Homo sapiens: one gene and its partners. The protein of the gene in region 3 purifies or fractionates together with the protein of the main gene of each other region. This does not show direct contact. Each region holds a gene or a part of one and is shown on either strand. Other genes may lie near its edges. The genes, in order: HAVCR2, ACP3, L2HGDH and GM2A.

Region 1 (4,268 bases), on a different chromosome or scaffold from region 3:
AGGAGCTACTGACCTATTTTTGGTTGTTTCAATATTTTTTCTCAGTCAGGCCCTTGAGAAGCTCAGAGGTTCGAGGTATTATTCCTATATTCCCATTTTTGTTGCCCTAGAGGGAAGGAACTAACAAACAAAAACTAAAGGGAAGGCTGGGCGTGGTGGCTTACACCTGTAATCCCAGCGCTTTGGGAGGCCGAGGCAGAGGGATCACCTGAGGTTAGGAGTTCGAGACCAGCATGGCCACCATGGTGAAACCCCGTCTCTAATAAAAATACAAAAATTAGCGGGGCGTGGTGGCGCGCGTCTGTAATCCCAGCTACTTGGGAGGCTGAGGCAGGAGAATGGCATGAACCTGGGAGGCAGAGTTTGCAGTGAGCCAAGATCGTGTCATTGCACTCCAGCCTGGGTGAGAGAGTGAGACTCCGTCTCAAAAAAAAAAAAAAAGGAAAGAAAAACTAAAGGAAAGAAGACTTCTGTCTGTGGTAGAGACAAGTATAAGGAAATGCACCACCTCGACAGGGAGTGAACTCCGTCTACAGCAAATGCCCATTCAGTGGTGATGTAGTAAAAAGTACTGGCCGGGCGCGGTGGCTCACGCGTGTAATCCCAGCACTTTGGGAGGCCGAGGCGGGAGGATCACAAGGTCAGGAGATGGAGACCATCCTGGCTAACACGGTGAAACTCTGTCTCTACTAAAAATACAAAAAAGAAAAAAATTAGCTGGGCTTGATGGTGGGCGCCTGTAGTCCCAGCTACTTGGGAGGCTGAGGCAGGAGAATGGCGTGAACCCAGGAGGCGGAACTTGCAGTGAGCCGAGATTGCGCCACTGCACTCTAGTCTGGGTGACAGAGCAAGACTCCGTCTCAATTAAAAAAAAAAAAAAAAGTACTGAAGCACAGGATGGGAAAGTGAGACTAAATGACCCTTGAAGTCCCTTCTAGCACTATGGTTGTAAGATTCTTTAAAATATAACAATGGCATACAATAAGTATCTGGTATAACTTTATTATTTTCTGTCCCCACCATATTTAGTTTCCTCTCTAATTGCATAAAAGATGTTGGCTACCAATCACTAAAGACTAACCAAAGACTGAAACTTTGGAGAGCTAAAACCAGTAACTATAGTAATAATAAACAGTTGAGTGCTTTTTATGGGCCAGGTACTATGCTGAGCATTTTACATACATTATCATGTTTATACATTACAACCACCTCATGACATGGGCACTGGAATTATCCTCATTGTAGAGATGAGCAAACTGAGCTTCAGAGAATTTGAGCAACTTGACTGAGGTCACAGAGCTATCAAGAACAGCTGAAATTAGAACCCATTCCACCTGTCACTGAAGTACTTTAACCACAATCTCACTGTGCCTCCTGATCTTATAATATTAACGACAACAGCTAACATGTACAAATTGTGGTCAGACATTGGGATAAACGTTTTAGACATTTTCTTATTTAAAGCCCATAAGGTGTGATTTATGAGATTTATGACATTATGAGGTGGGACTCACCTATTAACCTCATTTTACAGAAGAAAAAAAAAATGGAGCTCCAGAGAGTTTAGAAGAGACCAGGACACTGACAAGAAATACCTTAAAATTAACCTTCATGATCAATGTGACTTGACTTCTGCTTTATGCCCAGTGTTCTCTTCTGGAGCACCCTGAGTACGTCCTTGCTGAATTACATGAAGAATTTAACTATTCTTTCTGTGGCTGGAATCCAGGGAAGGTGATGGGCTTTATTCTAGCTAGAAGGCATCCTAGAAATCACCTAATCCAATGTGTCAGTTCCCAAACACAGACTGACACCAGTTCATGACCAAACATCACCAGTCCAGGGTCAGTCAGAAAATGTGGACAAAGTAATGAGCATTTCATTCAATTTAGTTAATATTTAAGTAAAATTAAAGACTATAAAGTTTATTAACTTTTTTCCAGTTAAAATTTAAGTAAAATAATCCTAAGCCAGACCATCTTTTTCCCAGCACAGGTGTGTCTCCACCACTTCCCTCTTTTCAAACACTATTTCAGGTGCACGGAGATATCCATGCCTCCACTCTCACACTGTTTTCTCATCTTTTTTTCCCACATTCAAAATCCTCTGAATTCAGAGCCAGCTAAAGATTCCCTCCTCTGCCCCATGCATAGTTACCTGGGCCATGTCCCCTGGTGGTAAGCATCCTTGGAAAGGCTGCAGTGAAGTCTCTCTGCCGAGTCGGTGCAGGGGTGACCTTGGCTAATGTCAGAAACAACATAAGGATGAAAATTATCTGAGAGCAGAAAGCTTATTTCAGGGAATCAAAGGGGCAGCAAGAAAAAAATGCGAAAGACAATTAAGAAAGAGAAATACACCCTCAGCTTCCAAACCTGCCTGGATACCTACGTTGAGAGTGTATCACACACTTCAAATGTTTGACAAAGGTAAGATGCAGTCATCATTGTTACATTCTGATTATTAATAGCGGAACTAACAGCCACACAAATGGCCATAATTACAGGTTGAAGACTCCTTATCTGAAATGCTTGAGATCAGAAATGTTTTAGATTTTGAATTTTTTTTTTTTTTTTGAAACGGAGTTTTGCTCTTGTTGCCCAGGCTGGAGTGCAATGGCATAATCTCGGCTCACTGCAACCTCCGCCTCCTGGGTTCAAGCAATTCTCCTGCCTCAGACTCCTGAGTAGCTGGGACTACAGGCATGTGCAACCACACCTGGCTAATTTTGTATTTTTAGTAGAGACAGGGTTTCTCCATGTTGGTCAGACTGGTCTCGAACTCCCGACCTCAGGTGATCCACCCACCTCAGCCTCCCAAAGTGCTGGGATTATAGGCATGAGCCACCACGCCCAGCCATGTTTTTATTTTTTTATTTTTTAGTATCTGCCTATACTTATGTTCCAATGAGCTTTTCCTTTGAATGTCATGTCAGTGTCCAAAAAGTTTTGGATTTTAGAGCATTTCAGATTTTGGTGCATTTTAGGTTTTAGATTTTCAGATTTGGGATGCCCAACCTATAAAGGCTTTTAATAAAATATTATCACATAAAATCCTTCTAATGGCCCACATGATCGGTATTATTGTCATATTTTATAGAAGAGGAGCTCACAGCGTTTCAATAACTTGCTCAGGATTATATAGCTAGTAAGAGGCAGAGTTAGATGTAAACTCAGCTCTATCTGGGCACAAAGTACATGTTATAGAAATCTTAAGTCTGTTCACCTCCCAGCATACATGCATAACCCAGCAGTTCACCATGCTGGCTGCACCTGGGGTAAAATCACCTGAGGTAGACTCTGTAAAAAGCTAATGCTTAGCATCTACCTCCAGAGATGCTGATTTCTCTGGTTTTTGGTAGTGGGGTTTTTTCTTCTGCTTTTTAAGAGATAGGGGTAGCCACAGTATATCAGCCAGGCTGGTCTCAAACTCCTGACCTCAAGTGATCCTCCTGCTTCAGCCTCTCAAAGTATTGGGATTATAGGCATGAGCCACTGTACCTGGCATCTATAGTTGTTTAAAAACTCTCTATGTGATTCTAATGAGAGTCAGGGTCTCTAACCACTGATCTAGGCCTTTCATCCCATCTATACATTCCACCCATGAGTTTTGGCTTTTCTTTTCTTTTCTTTTTTTTTTTTTGAGACAGAGTTTCACCCTTGTCAGCCAGGCTGGAGTACAATGGCGAGATCTTGGCTTACCACAACCTCCGACTCCCAGGTTCAAGTGATTCTCCTGCTTCAGCCCCCCAAGTAGCTAGAATTACAGGCTCCCGTAACCATGCCTGGCTAATTTTTTGTATTTTTAGTGGAGACAAGGTTTTACTATGTTGGCCAGGCTGGTCTCGAATTCCTGACCTCATGATCCACCGGCCTCAGCCTCCCAAAGTGCTGGGATTAGAGGTGTGAGCCACCACGCCCAGGCACACCCATGAGTTTTAAAACAGAGAGAAGGTGTTAAATATCACTGAGCATCACCAATGGGGCCTGTTAAACTTTAGGTCTTAGTGGCCCTCCTCCAGGGCTATAATTAGGGAAGTCAGAGATGAGAACAATCAGTACCTTTAATATGATCCACAGATAAATCTTATTCATAAAGATGGCATGCAAATGTCCACTCACCTGGTTTGATGACCAACTTCAGGTTAAATTTTTCATCATTCATTATGCCTGGGATTTGGATCCGGCAGCAGTAGATCCCACTGTCTGCTAGAGTCACATTCTCTATGGTCAGGGACACATCTCCTTTGCGGAAATCCCCATTTAGCCAGT
Region 2 (4,268 bases), on a different chromosome or scaffold from region 3:
ATTCTCCTGCCTCAGCCGCCTGAGTAGCTGGGACTACAGGCGCTTGCCACCACGCCCAGCTAATTTTTTTATTTTTAGTAGAGATGGAGTTTCACCATGTTGGCCAGGCTGGTCTTGAACTCCTGACCTCAGGTGGTCCACTTGCCTCGGCCTTCCAAAGTGCTGGGATTACAGGTGTGAGCCACCGTGCCCAACTAGTATAACTTTTTTTTTTTTTTCGAGACTGAGTCTTGCTCTGTCATCTAGGCTGGAGTGCAATGGCACCATCTTGGCTCGCTGTAGCCTCTGCCTCCCAGGTTCAAGTGATTCTCATGCCTCAGCCTCCCGAGAAGCTGGGATTACAGGCACACGCCACCACACCCAGCTAATCTTTGTATTTTTAGTAGAGATGGGGTTTCACCATGTTGGCCAGGCTGGTCTTGAACTCCTGACCTAGTGATCCACCTGCCTTGGCCTCCCAAAGTGCTGGGATTACAGGCATGAGCCACCACACCTGGCAACATTTTATATACAATAAAAATAATAGATTTTTAACACCACATACAATTTGTGACCATTTTGAGCCAATGATTTGTTCATTTTTTGGAGATTAGGAGTAAAAGATTGCAGGTGGGGAGGTTAGGAAAGCTAATTCTCAATACTTTAATAACATACTTCTATATTTGTACCCATGTCATGCTATTGTGATTGCACATTTCTCTTTGGGAAGAGTAGTCTGGACTTTTGAAATCTTGGTGCTTTGATTCTAATATGCTTTCTCAGTATAATATCAAACCAAACACAAAGCCATCTTATGAGCAAAAGATAAGGAAAGAAAACACTGAAGAACTACAAGATGAAGTCTACACTGATGTCAGCAAATATTTTTAATATAGAGACAGCTGCATAACACCTTGATTTATCTGAGGTTACCCGCACCTGTACTTATACTACCTGGCTAAAATGTTCCATTGAAAAGTAAGCTAAGAACCTGCTCTTTTGAAATTCTGTAAAACAGAATTCAATAGACATTAAATAAGAAAACAGTCTCAGACTTTAGTCATTTTTGAGAAGGAATTCCAAGAAAGTGGGAGATGCTTGGTTTGTGTCTCTAATATCTGAAGAAAACAGATCTTTTGGCCCTTTAAACTAGTGACAAATTAAAACTTCGGTAGAGTAGTCTACAGAAACAGGGGCAATGATGCAATAAATGTTAAGCGATCATTTTGGTCAGGTGAGAAATTACTTTCATGAATGATCCCCTGAAGGCAGGAAGGACAGCTGCATATTTTTTTGTGAGCACCTGCAGTTACTAGTCTCAGGGGTGACTTGGTCATGATCAGAAATGATTATGGTTAATCATTGATGCCTCTTTCCACAATTGAAGTACATTTTAGAGTTTTTATATCCCAGGTAAATGTGTCTTTGAATAACTAAAGTTGTTACATGGTTTCAATAAATTACAAACCCCACACTGTTTTAGTTTCTAGGGCTTCTCAACCTCAGCATTGTTGACATTTTGGGCTAGATAATTCTTTGTTGTGGGGGTTGTCCTGTGCATTGTAGAATGTCTAGCAGCATCCCTAGCCTTTACCCACCGGATGCCAGTAACATTCCCCAGCTGTGACAACTGAAAAAGGCACATTTTCTGCCATAGGGGCAGAAAATCACCCCAAGTTGAGAGCCACTGAGTTAGCCAAAGAGAAGTCAGGTGAGAGACATTGTAATAAAATAATTTACATTGCTTCCCACCAACCTATAACCACAACGGTAACTCCTTAACATTTTTTGAACACTCACTTTGTCCTGGAAACTGTGCTAAGTGCTTCTCATAGATGTAATCTTCTCATCAGTTCCACAAAGCAGTTACTATTATTATTTCCATTTCACAAATGAGGAAGTTTAGCTTAATTAAGTGACCTGTCTAAACTCACACAGCATGTAAGAAGTGGTAGAGCTGATATTCAAACACAGGCTGTGCCTCCAACTCCAGCATACTTAACCACCTGTGAGAGGTTCATTTCTGTATGATCACACTCCTCACAGTCCCACCAGCTAAATCTGAATGGTCTGGGATCTAACGCTTCTTTATTAACTCTACTTAGTATACTCTTTTCCTCTAGGATTGGAAGGGGTGTGTGTGTGTGTGTGTGTGTGTTTTGTATCAGAAGAAACCAAAACCTTGATACGGAAACTACCCCGAAGGCACTGTGAACTATGTATATTATTGAAAGAATAGAACTGAGGTTATGCAACTAAATGACAGAATGGCCTGAGAGAGAAAAACAAGTGTGGTCACCTTAGCAGAGTGTTTTGAAGAGCAGAGAACTGGAACATAATCATGAGACTTGGGCAAACTTTCTCACTCTGGCCCATAGTTCAGAAATAATTGTACTCCCCTACATTTCAGTAGGTTTTAAGTGTTTCCAAGGTAGTTGCTCAAACATGCTGTCAACCCTTTGGAAGGGATGTCCTGGAGAAACACTTAATAAACCATTCTCCACTTCCAGGGCTGGAAATCAAAATGTGTGCACACACCCCTCCCGCAGGCAAATGTGAAGCTGGTGTTCCTTGAGCTTTTGGAGTTTCAAAATTCAGCTGGAGTTCTTGGACTATGCGAAGACATTCTTTTAATTCTGTGGTAGAGCAATCTTCTTAACTGCTGCTCTACCAATTATTACCTCTGTGCTCAGTCCAGCAATCATACTCTATGAAATCCTTTAAAAACCTAAAAATACTTTATTAGCAATTAGGATTTTTGCAGTAGTAGTGGTAATTGTAATAGAAAGACATCCAAGATAATAACAATTCCTGGCCAGGCACAGTGGCTCATGCCTATAATCCCAGCACTTTGGGAGGCTGAGGCAGGCGGATCATGAGGTCAGGAGATCAAGACTATCCTGGCCAACATGGTGAAACCCCATCTCTACTAAAAATACAAAAATTAGCTGGGTGTGGTGGCGCATGCCTGTAGTCCCAGCTACTCGGGAGACTGAGGCAGGAGAATCACTTGAACCTGGGAGGCAGAGGTTGCAGTAAGCCGAGATCGTGCCACTGCACTTCAGCCTGGTGACAGAGTGAGACTCCGTCTCAAAATAAATAAATAAAAATAAAAAAAAATAATAATTCCTTACATTTGCACAACCCTCCATGGTTTGTAGAATTTTCCCCTGCTACCTCTTTTAATTATTACATCCCCGTCTGAGGACAGGTTGGCACTACTGCTGCACTGAGCAAGTAAGAAAACTATATGATCAAAGAGATCATGTAGCTGTCCAGATCTCCTAATTCTCATGATAGTTGGCCCACTGTTTCCCCATCATACTACAATCACTTCACACTTTTAAATCATAGGTAACTGTTTTTAAAAGGACTTTTGGTTTGGTGCCCCCATGAATGAACCTGCTCCACTGAATCTGCTAAACAAATCTGGCATGTGGCTTAGGGTGTGGAGAACCTGGTGAGTACAGTCGAGGCTATATCCAGTGGAAAATGTAAAGATATACAAAAGTGGAGTTTTTTTTTTTTTTTTTTTGAGATGGAGTCCTGCTCTTGTTGCCCAGGCTGGAGTGCAATGGCATGATCTTGGCTCACTGCAACCTCTGCCTCCCAGGTTCAAGTGATTTTCCTGCCTCACCCTCCCAAGTAGCTGGGATTACAAGCACCTGCCACCACGCCTGGCTAATTTTTGTATTTTTAGTAGAGACGGGGTTTCGCCATGTTGGCCAGGCTGGTCTCGAACTCCCGACCTCAGGTGATCCACTCGCCTTGGCCTCCCAAAGTGTTGGGATTACAGGCGTGAGCCACTGTGCCCAGCCTAAAAGTGGAGATTTTTATCATGAGCCCACCACTGTCTCCAACAATTATCAACTTGTATGTGGCTAGTCTTGTTTCTTTTATATCCTCATCACTCTTAGATATTATATCATGTTCTATTGCTCTTTGCATAAATTAAAGGTCCTTACAAGGGCTCACAAGATCTTACCTGATCTGGTCCCTACCCACCTTGATATTCTCACCTTGATGTCCTCAGCTTACCCACATGGGCCCTCCTGCTGTTACATCCAATATACTAAATTTGCTGAAGCCTCAGGGCCTTTGCTCTTGATGTCCTGTCTGCTTTGAATGTCTCAAGTCTGCGTCTTCTCTCAGCATACACACCACTCATCAATTTGAGGTCTGTCCTGAAAATTTGACCTTTACAGAGAGACATCCCTTGACCATCATTATAATTCTTGCTCAATCTCTATCTTATCTCACTGTTTTATTTCAAATAAATATTCCTGATG
Region 3 (4,268 bases):
TCGAGACCATCCTGGCTAACACGGTGAAACCCCGTCTCTACTAAAAATACAAAAAATTAGCCGGGCGTGGTGGCGGGCGCCTGTAGTTCCGGCTACTCGGAAGGCTGAGGCAGGAGAATGGCGTGAACCCAAGAGGTGGAGCTTGCAGTGAGCCGAGATCGCTGCCACTGCACTCCAGCCTGGGCAACAGAGTGAGGCTCCGTCTCAAAACAACAACAACAACAACAACAACAACAAAACAGTAAGGCCTGGAAAGAAAGAAAATGTTGAGACAGGTGAGAACTCTGAGGCTTCAAAAATAGGTCATCTGGGAAGAAGATCTAAGAATAAGAACAGAATTGCTAGGTGTTTACTCTGTAAGAAGTAAAGAGATGGGAATTCAAGTGTGGTGGTGAATGCGGGATAAATGAAGTCATTTAGGAAATAGGGTGACAAATTGGCTAAACTTAGTGAGTAAAGTTAAAAATAAGCAGATGATAATCACAAAATAAAATTTATAGGAAATCATAACAGCCTAACATTAGCAGTCTAAAGCTGGTCACTAAAGCAAACGTTGAACGTAGTGTGTGCTCTCATTAAATGTGCATTGAATGAATGAGATTTCTAAAGTGTCCTCAGTTTGCAAAGTAGATATTGATTAGGAAGGAGAAATTGCTTGGTGGGTAGGTTACAGTTGCAACTGGGCAGGATTATTGAGTGTGAAGCAACCGAAGAGTAACACGGTAATTGCTCAGATACAGGAGAAGCTGGTTGCAATACAGAGTTTGCCTTTAAATGAGAGGGTTACAGGCCCTTCGACTTCAGTGCCAGAGATGTTATGGATATAATTATCAATAGGTAATAACTTTAATTTTAAAATGATTTTATGTGCTTATATTTTTAATGTAGGAAGTTTTGTCTTTCTTGATATTCTGCTGATTGGGTAAATCCTCATATTTGTGATTGGTATATTGAATTTTTAATTAATCCAAATTAAAAGCTGTGGGGTGGGTGGGGGAGCAAAAAAAATTGGTGGAGGCTGTCTAAATGACATTTGCTTCCTCATGCAGCAAATAGTTAAGAAGCTCCCTGCTAGGTCCTAATAAACAGATTTGTATGTATTTGTATGTATGTATTTGTGTGCATGCATGTATACCTTACTAAGTATCCTTGCTAGGTTGACCATTATTATCTTTACAGTACAAAATTTAAGGTGACATCCTCTTACATGCCACTATCCTAAGTTTCTAGCTGCCACCTAAATGCTAAAGAACATATTTTGCTGATACCTGTATTGAATATCCTCTTTTAGAAAAAATTCTATTTCTGTACCTTTTTTTCTTTTCTATCACCTGTTTTTCCCCTCTTGACCTATTCTACTCCACTTTATACAAATAACTGTTCTTTTATTTTGCACTAGGGAGAGGAAATTCGATGTCAGTATGTTGTGACATGTGCAGGACTTTACTCAGACCGTATTTCAGAGTTGAGTGGCTGCACTCCTGATCCTCGAATTGTACCATTCCGGGGAGATTACCTGCTTTTGAAGCCAGAAAAATGTTATCTTGTAAAAGGAAATATTTATCCGGTAGGTAATGATGCTTCCTACTTCTCATTTTTTTCAAGCAGGTGGTGGTCATAAAGGAGATGAAAACAACTTTCACTTGGGTCAGAAATAAGAGAAATTTTGAAGGACCGTTTTTGTAAGCATTTCATCGGTTTCTCTTGTGGTTAAATCCCTAAATCTTTATCCCTGTATCATGGTTATTAAATTGTAATTAATTGCCTGCAGGTACATGTCTCCAGAAAGCATGAGTGCACTCTGGGAAGTGCTATCAAGAAGGAACTGAATTCTACCTTCTCTCTGGTGGAGGGAAAGGGAAAACTTTCCCTTATGGAAGTCCCTGATACCCAACCCTTTTCCTCAGTTCACTATCTGTAGGTACAGAAAAGGGATGTGGCCACTCTGTAGTTTCAGGGAGTAGAAGACAGAGGTATTTAAATGAGGAGTTCATTCTTCTGTCTGGAACTACCCTGGAAATGAATGAATCTCTTAAAATATATTAGGTCGAACCAGATGAAATAGTCAGTATTCGGCTATTTGATATTTTTGAGCTTGCCGAAACATGAATTTCATCTGCTTCAACCTCATGTATTTGTACTTTGCAGAAGCCTGTGCTATGAATGTGTATTTTTTTCTGGCAGCTCTGATTTTACTTGCCAGTCATAGACATCCCTTGTGAAAGACCGAGAATAGCCTGAAGTAAGACAGTTCATCTTTTTTTTTTCCTTTACCCAGAAAGATGCATAGATGGAACAATCTATTAGTGTCAGTAGCATCAGAGTTTCTTTTTTTTTTTTTTTTTTTTCCTGAGACAGATTCTCACTCTGTTGCCCAGGCTGGAGTGCAGTGGCATGATCTTGGCTTATTGCAACCTCCATCTCCTGGGTTTAAGTGATTCTCATGCCTCAGCCTCCCAAGTAGCTGGGATCACAGGTGCACACCACCACGCCAGGCTAATTTTTGTATTTTTAGTAGAGATGGGGTTTCACCATGTTGGCCAGGCTGGTTTTGAACTCCAGATCTCAAATGATCCTCACGCCTCAGCCTCCCAAAGTGTTGAGATTACAGGCGTGAGCCACCACACCCAGCCAGCATCAGGGTTTCTTGTGTGCATTTCTAAGCAGAAGCATGTTAATGGAAAAGTATATCTGAGTACAGCTCACAATACAAATTAAATGCATGAGAAGAAAGTGTTTTATGTTACCAATTGAATGTTTGCATCTCTGATAACATGGAATGTGAAATGAGGCTGTTATTTACTATGTTAAATTTATAGGTCCCAGATAGCCGGTTTCCTTTCCTAGGAGTTCACTTCACACCAAGGATGGATGGCAGTATTTGGCTAGGGCCTAATGCAGTTCTTGCCTTTAAACGAGAGGGTTACAGACCCTTTGACTTCAGTGCCACAGATGTTATGGATATAATTATCAATAGGTAACATTATTTATTTTTAAAAATGATTTTATGTGCTTATATTTTCAATGTGGGAAGTTTTGTCTTTCTTGATACTCTACTTATTGGGTAAATCCCCATATTTGTGATTGGTATATTGAATGTTGTATTAATCCAAATTAAAAGCTTTGGAGTGGATGGGGTAGCAAACAAACAAACAAACAAACAAAAAAAAAAATGCCTTTTGGAATAAGTATAACATTTTAACTACTTCAAGAAAATTCTGTTGAGCTGGGGTTAAAAAGAAAAGGCTGGCTGGGCGCAGTGGCTCATGCCTGTAATCCCAGCACTCTGGGAGGCCGAGGCAGGTGGATCATGAGGTCAGGAGATCAAGACCATCCTGGCTAACACGATGAAGCCCCATCTCTACTAAAAATACAAAAAATTAGCTAGGCGTGGTGGCTGGCACCTGTAGTCCCAGCTACTTGGGAGGCTGAGGCAGGAGAATGGCATGAACCCGGGAGGCAGAGCTTGCAGTGAGCTGAGATCGCTGCCACTGCACTCCAGCCTGGGCGACAGAGCAAGACTCCATCTCAAAAAATGAATAAATAAATAAATAAATAAATAAATAAATAAATAAATAAATAAAAATAAAAAGAAGATAAGGCCAAGAGTTATTCATATATCTGGCAATCCAAATCTTGTATTGCTAAGTTTCCAGTTTTATTTGGTGGGGGAGGAAATAGATTCTCTCAAAATCAGTAGATGGCTATTTTAATAAAATCATTTTGAGCCAGTCTCCATCATTTTGTAAGCCACTGGAGAAATTACTGATGACCAAAGTAATTTCCTTGTGTAGGAAACTAACAATACGATTGTGTTGACCTAAGATGCAGATTCTTTACTATTGTAAGAAATACTGAATTAGGTATTTTGTTTGGTCCTTTTACCAATGTTTCTCTCTAAAGGGTTTCACATGAAAATCACTAGATTTTCCTGTTTAAATCACTAGATTTAAAGCTATACTTGAGTTTCACCCTCTATGGATTCTGAAACAGAAAGTTTAGGATGGAGCTTCCTGGCACATGTAGTTGTAAAAATATATACATATGTGCATCTAGGCTTTGCAGAGTCTCACTTGAAAATCACAACTAAAGTTTTTTTGGTTTTTTGTTTTGTAATTTTGAGACAAGGTCTCACTTTGTCCTCACTGCAGCCTCAACCTCCTGGGATCAATCAGTTCTCCCACTTCAGCCTCCAAGTAGCTGGAACTACAGGCAGATGCTACCATGCCCAGATAATTTTTGTGTTTTCTGTAGAGACAGGGTTTCGC
Region 4 (4,268 bases), on a different chromosome or scaffold from region 3:
CCCCTGCAAATACACCAAGCACCAAGTCTACCTCCCTGCCAGTAAAAGCTCAGGAACCAAACCCCAAGATAAACATACCAGCCTTGTCCATGCTAACAACTAGCTTTGTGACCTGGGTCAAGTTGCAACCTTTCCTGAGACCCTTTGTCCCTCATCGGCTCTTCTCCCTAGCAAGTGGTCAGAAGAGCTTTCATCTAATAGTTGATATGCACATATCCTGAAAAAAGAACTGAACCAAATAAATAAATAAATATATATATATATACGAGAAATATTGGGAGCCGGGCCTGGTGGCTCACGCCTGTAATCCCAGCACTTTGGGAGGCCAAGGTGGGCAGATCACCTGAGGTCAGGAGTTTGAGACCAGCCTGGCCAATGTGACAAAACCCCATCTCTACTAAAAAAGTGCACGCCTATAATCCCAGCTACTCTGGAGGCTGACGCAGGAGAATCCCTTGAAACCGGGAGGCAGAGGTTGCAATGAGCCATGATCGCGCGACTACACTCCAGTCTAGGCAACAGAGTGAAACTCCATCTCAAAAAAAAAAAAAAAAAAAAAGAAATTGGGGAAAAAGAAGGAGCAGAGGGGATCTGAGGCTAATTTTTCCTAAGCACAAGTGACAGTAAAGACAGAGGAGATTATGTAGGCCCAAATTTATGAAAGGTAATAAAGCAATGGAAAAGGAGAATAGGGAGTAAAACCCATCTTAATGGTTTGTGAAGAAGCCAGGAAAAGCAGGCTGAGGGCAGAAGAGCGGGTTTGCCAGCTTCTTGTTTCCAAGTCAGCTGCATAGCCCCCTCCCTGGAAACACCAGTGGCTGCATGGTGATGGCAGCAGAGGGAGCATGGCGGACGGCCTACCAGGAGAGCCCACACTCCAGATCAGCAGAGGGAGCACACAAATAAATGTGTGTGACCCTGGCAGAGAAACAGTCCAGTGTCCATACATAGGGAATGATTCCATCCCTTGGCCCAGATCCAAGGGTACAGGGCTTGACCCCCTATCACTTGAGGAACAGTAATGGAAACACAATGACTCTGCTAGGAAAAGGCTTGGTAGGAGGTGCAGGGGAGCTGAAAGCTGCCACATATCCAGGACTTGTGTCTGGGTCAAGAGACTGCAGGATAAGACAGATACTAATCGAAATGTTCACAAGATATAAAATGTACTGAGCATGTCCTGGGTGCCAGGCCCTGTGCAAAGCACTTTCCACATGATTTTCTAACTCAGGTATTGCTCAAGGAAAGCCCATAACGTAGGAGCTGTGATTAAGACAGGTCTAAGGATAATGATAGAAACACAGAATCCAAATCAGGAATCTTCTAAATAATTAACACAAAACTGGTACTAGAATAGATCTGGATCAGGAACAGACTGAAGGGCATAGAGGAGCATCATATAAAGGTAGCAATTTTAGCTAGAGAGGAAAGGACCATATTAAATGGTGTTGCAATGGATATATGAAAAGTCTTCATTGTTTTCTAAGAAAATATAAAAACATACACCCCTAAAATAGTCAATGGATGGAAACAAACAGGTTATTCCCAAAGTAAATACAAAAGGCAAATAAACTTATGAATAGACATCTACGCTCACTAGGAATGATGCAGGTTTATTCAAACATTGGGAGGCACTTTGGCAAAATGTATCAAAAGACCTAAAAAGTGTGTATCTAGAGAATCAGAAAATTATAAAAAGATGTACTATAAGAATAATTTCTACAAAGGTGGTTACTACAGCAAAACAAAAAACAAACAAACAAAAAAAACCCTCTGGCCAGGTACAGTGGCTCAAGCCTATAATCCCAGCACTTTGGGAGGCTGAGGCAGGTGGATTGCCTGAGGTCAGGAGTTCAAGACCAGCCTGGATAACATGGTGAAACCCCATCTCTACTAAAAATACAAAAAGTAGCTGGGCATGGTGGCAGGTGTCTGTAATCCCAGCACTTTGGGAGGCCGAGGCAGGCACATTGCCTGAGGTCAGGAGTTCAAGACCAGCCTGGCCAACATGGTGAAACCCCATCTCTACTAAAAATACAAAAATTAGTGGGGCGCAATGGCAGGTGCCTGTAATCCCAGCACTTTGGGAGGCTGAGACAGGAGAATCGCTTGAACCCGGGAAGTGGAGGTTGCAGGGAGCTGAGATTGCGCTACTGCACTCCAGCCTAGGCAACAGAGTAAGAACCTGTCTCAAAACAAACAAATAAACAAACAAACAAATAAAAACTACCCTGGAAACAAACTAAATGTTCAACAATAGACTTGTTATATAAATTATGAAAGATCCACATCAGAATATTTCTGCCATTAAAAATGATTGGGTGGGCTGAGCAAGGTGGCTCACGCCTATAATCCCAACATTTTGAGAGTCTGAGGCAGGAGGATTGCTTGAACTCAGGAGTTTGAGACCAGCCTGGGCAACACAGGGAGGCTCCGTCTCCATAAAAAATAAAAAAATTAGGTAAGCATGGTGACATGAACCTGTGGTCCCAGCTACTCAGGAGGCTGAGGTGGGAGGATCCCTTAAGCCCAGGAGGTCAAGGCTGCAGTAAGCCATGATCACACTACTGCACTCCAGCCTGAGCAACAGAGTGACACACTGTCTCTAAAATTACAATACATTAAAATAATAAAATAATGATTGGATAAAAAAAAATTGAATAAGTAGAGCCACCTAATCCTTGGAAAGATATGGACATATAGTATGAGGCAAAAAAAATAGCAAGTATAATAGCACATATCATATAATCCCATGAGTATAAGTGTGTATATATTTACAAACACATAAAAATTCTGATGGGATATATAAAGAGCAAACACTGACTATCTCTAGGATTTAGATTACTGGAGGACATTTACAATGAGCACTGCCTATTATCATACATATCCATTAAAAATAAATATGTGTGTTATGTATGTAATTGTATGGGGGAAAGTTGCAAAGAATATCCTATAAGATGTTAAAAGTGCTTATCCCTTATCACTAGGTAGTGAGATTTCAAGTGATTTATTTTATTTATTTATTTATTTTGGGACAGAGTTTCACTCTGTCACCCAGGCTGGAGTGCAGTGGTGCGATCCTGGCTTTCTGCAACCTCTGCCTCTTGGGTTCCAGCAATTCTCCTACCTCAGCCTCCTGAGTAGCTAGGATTACAGGCACATGCCACCACGCCCAGCTAATTTTTGTACTTTTAGTAGAGATGGGGTTTCACTATGTTGGCCAGGCTGGTCTCAAACTCCTGACCTCAAAAGATCCACCCACCTCAGCCTCCCAAAGTGTTGGGATTACAGGCATGAGCCACCACACCTGGCCTATTTTATTTATTTTTTGACCACTTGTGTTTTCTAAAGTGACTATATATTACTGGCTAATTGGTATATCAATTTTATAATTAACAACAAAACCAAATTGGCCAACCAGAGCTGTCAGACAATAATGAGCAGTTGGCCACCAGGCCCAGAGAAGGCCAGGACGCTTCTGCCAGGTGCAAGGTATCCGTCACTCCTGCCCTCACCAGGAAGTTGCTGGCGCTGACATCAGAGATTCCTTTCAATCTTATGATCCTGAGATTCCATGAACCTGTGAAAGAGTGTCTGAATCTACATGTCCTGTACTATTCTCTGGGAATCCAGGATTCTGAAATTCTTCACAGTTCCCCAAGCATACATGCCCCAGTACCCCTGCTGGCCAGACCCTCGCACCTCCCCTTCTCCACCCACCCCCAGGCTCACCTTCAGAGGAGAACTCAGGGGGACACTGGTGCTGCCCATGACACTGAGGGTCACATTTCCAGGAACGATGATGGGGTCAGGCTCCAGAGTCAGGCTTCTGATCACCGCAGGGTCCTTCCCTTCATCACAGTTATCCCAGGAAAAGCTACTGAGCTGGGATGGCTGGGGACAATCAGGCAGCAAGGAAGGAGAAGAAGAAAAAGGTTGACAAAAGAAACTATCACAGATCACAGGAAAAATGAGCTCCTGGCAGAGTGACCTTGGGTGAGGCACCCCCGTCCCTGAGCCTCATCTATGAGACTCCATACCTATGAAGCTGGGATAACACTTATCCTACTCATTTTATAGGCAGGACTAAACTAAAAGACTCAAAAGACATAATCTCCCAAAAGTGTATTGTAAACTATAAGGCAGGATATGATAGACCTGGAACTTCCAAACAGGAGACTGACCTAATTGGCCTTTGGTGGGCACCTTCTCTGACTTCCCACCTCCCTGCTGCCCACTCCTCTCCAGCCAGCCTTGGAATCCCAGCA

What was found.
Region 1: the proteins of L2HGDH (region 3) and HAVCR2 purify together in Homo sapiens (co-immunoprecipitation; one large-scale study listed by IntAct). This does not show direct contact.
Region 2: the proteins of L2HGDH (region 3) and ACP3 purify together in Homo sapiens (affinity purification with mass spectrometry; one large-scale study listed by BioGRID and IntAct). This does not show direct contact.
Region 4: the proteins of L2HGDH (region 3) and GM2A purify together in Homo sapiens (affinity purification with mass spectrometry, with the first as the bait; one large-scale study listed by BioGRID). This does not show direct contact.

The regions. Positions count from the first base shown.
Region 1 is NC_000005.10:157,102,509-157,106,776, forward strand, and holds part of HAVCR2 (hepatitis A virus cellular receptor 2 precursor), read right to left. Parts: coding exon 4,119-4,268; intron 2,242-4,118; coding exon 2,158-2,241; intron 1-2,157. UniProt on the Homo sapiens protein: Cell surface receptor implicated in modulating innate and adaptive immune responses. Generally accepted to have an inhibiting function.
Region 2 is NC_000003.12:132,323,465-132,327,732, reverse strand, and holds part of ACP3 (prostatic acid phosphatase isoform PAP precursor), read right to left. Parts: intron 1-4,268. UniProt on the Homo sapiens protein: A non-specific tyrosine phosphatase that dephosphorylates a diverse number of substrates under acidic conditions (pH 4-6) including alkyl, aryl, and acyl orthophosphate monoesters and phosphorylated proteins.
Region 3 is NC_000014.9:50,266,462-50,270,729, reverse strand, and holds part of L2HGDH (L-2-hydroxyglutarate dehydrogenase, mitochondrial isoform 1 precursor), read left to right. Parts: intron 1-1,399; coding exon 1,400-1,567; intron 1,568-2,819; coding exon 2,820-2,977; intron 2,978-4,268.
Region 4 is NC_000005.10:151,259,381-151,263,648, reverse strand, and holds part of GM2A (ganglioside GM2 activator isoform 1 precursor), read right to left. Parts: intron 3,895-4,268; coding exon 3,733-3,894; intron 1-3,732.